Regions from separate parts of the Homo sapiens genome. Here region 1 is linked to region 2. The links come from fine-mapping of genetic effects on gene expression. A gene starts in region 2. The other region holds a variant in brackets. All regions are shown on one strand. Distances are between the middles of the regions.

Region 1 (2,914 bases), 300 kb after region 2:
ATATGCATGACAAGGACCCAATAAGAGATAGGCATTGATAAATTGCAAATCACACTTACTGGAGTAAGGTCTTTAAAGTTGTACAAGAAAAAGAAAGAAAAAGAAAAGGCATTGAAAAACTGCATTGGCTACCAAAATGCTAAAGTTTACCTAAGTCCATTAATCAGCACACACACACACACACGCAATGGATGTGTAAAATGGTCAACATGGTATTCCATGAACGTATCCTCTTATAAATAGGTCTGTGGGGGTAAGAGATGAGGTTCTATAGATCCTGGAATCAGGGATGGGGAATCTGTGGGGTCCCTGGGGTGAGAGATGAGGGTCTGTAGATTAGTGATGGGTGGTCTTTTGGATAGTGATGAGATCCATGGAATCAATTCTTGTGGGTATGTAGGGTCAGTGATGAGGGAATCTGGTGTCAGTGGCGGGATGTGTGTGGAATCAGTGAGAGAGTGTGGAATCAATCTGTGAAGGCCAGATTTGTGGTGTCATCTCTCAGGCTGACACATCCTGACCTGTGTGACAATGGTGGAAATTCTATGGGGTCAGAGTGTGACAGTCAGTTCCTTGCCACTGGGTGTTCTGGGTCCGGCCAAGGGCACAGATTCCCTTACCTGATCCTGGCTGGAGAGGCCCTTCTCACGGACTCCTCATGTGAAAGATGGGTTGTCGGCGGTTTTGGTTTTTGTTTTATGGTGGGGGTGGGTGGGTTGGCTTTTCCTTTTGGGTTTGGTTTTGCCTCTTAGAGACCACAGACACATCCAGCTTTTAGGAAGACATTTTTGTCTGGGCGATCGCTAGTTCCTTTGGGCCAAGCCATCTAATGGGAATGAAGCTGACCATTCCCTCAGCGCAATTCAGATCTAGATGGTCGCTTTAAGGGGTCCACTCGGGGGCATGCAAGTGGGTTGTGGCTTTGAGTGGCAGGTGGGCGGGAAGAAACAACTAAGAAAGACACACGAGAGGTCCTCAGGCTTGATCTGTCACAGCTAGAAGAACAGCTTCCTTAACCCATCAGGCGCCAATGGGAGGTGCCTCTGGGCTGCAAGAGGCTGGCAGAGGGGGACTTCCAGACCCAGAAAGTCTGGGCACAGAAGCCTATTACTGCCAGACGCTGAGGAGTTGCCGTGGGAACCAAGGGCCTTTCGGGCCAGATCAGAGCCTTTCTCAGACAATTCTTTGGGTAACTGGCAAGCTCCTGTCCAGCGCACACCCCTATGAATGCTTAGTGTGCCATCTCGGGCAAGTCTTCTTTGGTCTGAGAGCCACTTGTTTCTTAAATCCCTGCGCTAATCTCGCCGTCTGCTCCTATGTAGCCCAGGCATTTGCCGCATGCTGGTCCTTTCTTTCCTGACAGGCGGGCAGTCTCCCTCCAGCTTCTGGGAGGACAGTTCAAATTATGGAGGAGGGGGTGCATGTAGGGCAGCAGTGCCCAGGGGAGTATGGGGGAGTTGGGGGAGCAGAGGCTCATTTTTCTTTATAGCTCAGATTCCCAAGCCTGTGACTTTGAGAATCTTTGTCTTCCTTGCAACATTTCAATCTGAGGCTCTTGTGGAGAGGGCAGAGTTGGAGCCAGATGGAAGAGTGGTGGGAGAGGAGTGGGTGGAGGGAACATGGAGAATGTTTCAGGTGGTGTCTTTATTTCTGGCACCTTACTTTGCCTACTGGAGTTTCCCAGTCTGTTCCAGACGC[C/A]CTCTCTAGACCCTGAGAGGGCCTGAGGAGGCATGTTAGTTGCCAGTGTGGTGGAGATGGAGTGCCGGGAGGTGGAGGTTGCAGTGAGCCAAGATCACGCCACTGCACTCCAGGCTGGGTGACACAGCGAGTCTCTGTCTCAATAAATAAATAAATAAATAAACAAACAAATGGAAGGGAAAAAACACAATATAAAAACCAAGTGATTCTAAAAGTAACAATATATCATAATGCCTAAATATGTGTAATTGGTGGGGCATGGTGGCTCCGATTATCATAATGCCTAAATTTGTGGGATTGGTGGGGTGTGATGGCTCCCACCTGTAATCCTAGCACTTTGAGAGGCTGGTGGATCACCTGAAGTCAGGAGTTTGAGACCAGCCTGACCAACATTGTGAAACCCTGTCCCTACTAAAAATAGAAAAAAATTAGCCAGGTGTTGTGGCGGACACCTGAAGTCCGAGCTACTAGGGAGGCTGAGGCAGGAGAATCACTTGAACCCAGGAGCAGAGGTTGTAGTGAGCCGAGATTGCCCCATTGCACTCCACCCTGGGTGACAGTGTGAGACTCCCTCAAAAAAAAAAGTTTGTGGGACCAATTCCAATCGAGTCCAGGGGTCTCAGTTGGCCAAGGCAGTCTCAAACTTCTGACCCCAAGTGATCTTCCTGTTTCGGCCTCCCAAAGTGCTGGGATTATAGGCGTGAGCCACCATGCCCAGCCTCCCCTCCTTTTCACTCAGGGATTTTAAATGTTTTATTTGCTCCATCTGTTATGTATGATTGCCTTGACGATTTCAGCTTGAATTAAAATTACATATTTTTGCCTGTGTTTATTAATATTTAAACATATTAAAATAATACATGTTCATAATGAAAATGAAACATTACAAATAAATACACAGGAAAGGCAGTATTCCCCTTCCAGCTCCACTCTTGAAATAACCAGTTAACAAGATGATGAACATCTTTCCATGATGTTCTCCAAGATTCATATAATTATTTGCAATCATACAATGGCATATACAGCTCAGGTGTGGTGGCTCACGCATGTAATTCCAGCACTTTGGGAGACTGAACCGGGTGGATCATTTGAGGTCAGGAGTTCAAGACTACCCTGACCAACATAGTGAAACCCCATCACTACAAAAAACACAAAAATTATCTGGGCGTGGTGGACGCTTGTATTCCAAGCTACTTGGGAGGTGGAGGCATGAGAA
Region 2 (2,914 bases):
GAATCCCTAAGTGCCCCCATGAGGTGTAAACCCTTTGGAGATATACCAGCTTTTTGGGAGGAACCCGTGTATATCTTTCTCTTATTGATTTATGATTTTCTTTTTGGAGGCAGGATCTCGCTGTGTTACCCAGGCTAGCGTGCAGTGCAGCCAACATAGCTGGTTACAGCCTCCACCTCCTGGACTCAACTGACTGGGCCTCCCAAGTAGCTGAGGCCACAGGCATGGGACACCACGCCCCGCTAATTTTTTTATTTTTCTAATTTCATGTAGAGACAGGGTCTTGCTGTGCTGCCCAGGCTGCTCTGGAACTCCTGGCCTCCCAAAGTGCTGGGACTACAGGCATGAGCCACACTGCTCAGCCTGATTTATGACTTTACCTGAAATTCCTGTCTCCCTGAATTGTATAAAATTAACCTGCAAGCCTGACCATCTCGGGCACTTTCACAGGACCTCTTGAGGCTGAATAACCTGGGCCACAGTCACTCATACTGACTAGGAATAAACCTTTTTAAATATATTTTGGCAGAACCCGGATTTTGCCGTCATTAGCAAGGCCCCAGGGAAGAGGCCACCTGGGTCCCCACAGCCACCTCACCTCCCGCGGACGCTGCCCCACGCAGATCCCCCCCCCCCCCCACCAAAACACGTCTAGACGTGCCCGTGCGAGGACATTTGGTCCCGGCCTACACTCCTATCCGCGGAAGATCGTCCCAAGGCGGGGTGCTCCCAACCCAAAGCAGCGGCCCTTCCCCAAAACACGCGGGCGAAGTCCTCCCCTGTCCCGCCTCCCACAATAAAGTCTGGAGCATCAGAGTCGGAGGGAACCCGAGTCGGACCTAGCCCATCCGTCTCATGGCTGTAACCCCCACCCCACCAGTGGACCCTGGCTGTGGCCGAGTCCCCCTCCACCTCCGGCCAAAAGACCCCCGTGGCAGCTCGCTAGGCCGCTGGCCCGTCCCCACCCGAGGAGCGGCGACCCTGGCACAAGAGGACCTGGGTTGCTCGGCGCCCCTGTGAAATCCGGGCTGTTCACCGCCCGAGCCGCCACTACACGCAACCGGGAACGGAGACTGAGTGGCGGCCCAGACCCGGGGCGCTCGGCAAGCCGCAGCCCCACCGCCCACTTCAAGGCGCGGCCTGGGTCTCCGCCCCTCCCCAGAACGCGGAGACGCCGGGCCTGGAGGAGCGCGCGCTACGGCCCCAGCAGCGCCCTCACGTCCCAGGCCTTCCCGGCCCTTCTTCCTGCGCCGGAAGGGCGCGCTGCAGAGAGGGACCCGCAGGAGCGCAGCTCACCGGGGCGGCTGAGGGCGAACCGAGGCGGTGAGGTCACCGATGGTGGACCACGCATCTCACGGCTCGCTGACGCCCAGGGATCTGGAACGCTCTGCGCCGCCCGGGACTACACTACCCAGAATCCTCAGCGCGGCCGGGACTACGCTACCCAGCATCCTCGGCGCGGCCCGGAGGCTATGCGACCCTGCGCGTCGCATCCCCTCGGTGGACTACACTCCCCAGAGTCCTCGGGAGTCGTCCAGGTACACGCCCCAGAATATTGGTCATAGCGGTCCACCCGGGACTGCGCGACCCGGAATCCTTGGAAGGACTTCTCGGAAGGACTCCTCTCTGACAGGTGGGGCGAGCCTATGGTCGTTTGGACGTGGAGGGATCCTTTCAGAACCGGCGATTTCTTTTATTTAGGTAGCCCTATACATACATTAAGCATATTTTCCCATTTCTATGATATAGGTAAATAATTTTCCCACTGTCTTTTGATTATGGGTATGTCTTTTTTTTTTCTTTTGTTTCTTTTTTTTGCTATGTAGTACTTTTGATCTCTGATTTTCCTACGGATTTTGTGGTTTTATCATTCACATTTAGATCTCTCAATGGTTTAATTTTTCTCCAGGTACACACTGTAAATATACAATTATTTTTAAAATTTTCTAATATTTTATTAATTTCCCATTAAATTTATTAAAAATATAGTCTTTTACCAAATAATTTAAGGTTTCAGCTACATAATTCAGTATACTCAATTTACATTTGCATTTCAATTTCTAATTGTTCCCCCATTTATCTAATTATGCATCAATGCCAGAATTCTTTCATTATGTAGGGTGTATAATATGCTGATATCTTTTGTGGCTTGCCAAACCACGTAGACTTTATATTTCAGGCCTTTACTAGGTATACTTGCTGTTTGCTTTTTCTCTTTTGGTTTTTAAATTTTTAATTATTCTGGATAAATATTAGTTGTACATATTTATAGGGTACATGTTATGTTTTGATACAGGCATACAGTGTTTAATGGTCAAATGAGGGTGATTGGGGTATCCATCCCCTCAAGCATTTAGCATTTCTTTGTTTTAGGAAGTTTCCAATTCTCTCTTATTTTTAAATATATAGTAAAATTGTTCTTAACTATAGTCACTGTATAGTGCTACCAACTACTAGATCTTATTCATTCTAACTGTATTTTTGTATCGATTAACAAGTCCCTCTTTATCTCCTCTACCCACCATCCTTCCCAGCCTCTGTTAACTATCTCATTCTACTCTCCATCTCCATGAGTTCACGTTTTTAGCCCCACAAATGAGTGAGCACATGTGATATTTGTCATGCTGTGCCTCATTTCGCTTAACATAATGTCCTCCATTTTCATACATGCTATTGAAAATGACAGAATTTCATTCTTTTAATGACTGGCTAATATCCCATTGTGTTAATGTACCACACTTTCCTTATCCATTCATCTGTTGATAGACACTTTGATTCTATATCTTTACTATTTTGGATAGTGCTGTAGTAAACATGAGAGTGCAGATATATCCTTGAAATACTGATTTCCTTTCTTTTGGATATATACTCAGCAGTGGGATTGCGGGATCATGTATATATTTATTAATTCTTT

Evidence for each region. PIP is the estimated chance that this variant, and not a neighbour inherited with it, causes the effect. A credible set is the group of variants that fine-mapping cannot tell apart.
Region 1: its variant is the best candidate, but not a certain one, in a credible set for the expression of ZNF337 in whole blood (TOPMed, PIP 0.63).

What each region holds. Positions count from the first base shown.
Region 1 is chr20:25,996,515-25,999,428 of GRCh38, forward strand. No RefSeq gene overlaps it. Among named protein-coding and RNA genes, the nearest start is that of LINC01733, 42 kb to the left of the region's middle. RefSeq lists a silencer at 2,859-2,914. The variant C/A (reference allele first, on the strand shown) is at 1,699.
Region 2 is chr20:25,695,463-25,698,376 of GRCh38, forward strand. ZNF337 (zinc finger protein 337) reads right to left here and starts at 1,391. Exons shown (of 5, transcript NM_015655.4): 1 at 1,297-1,391. LOC107985400 (a long non-coding RNA gene) reads left to right here and starts at 1,579. Exons shown (of 2, transcript XR_007067557.1): 1 at 1,579-1,701. RefSeq lists an enhancer at 795-904.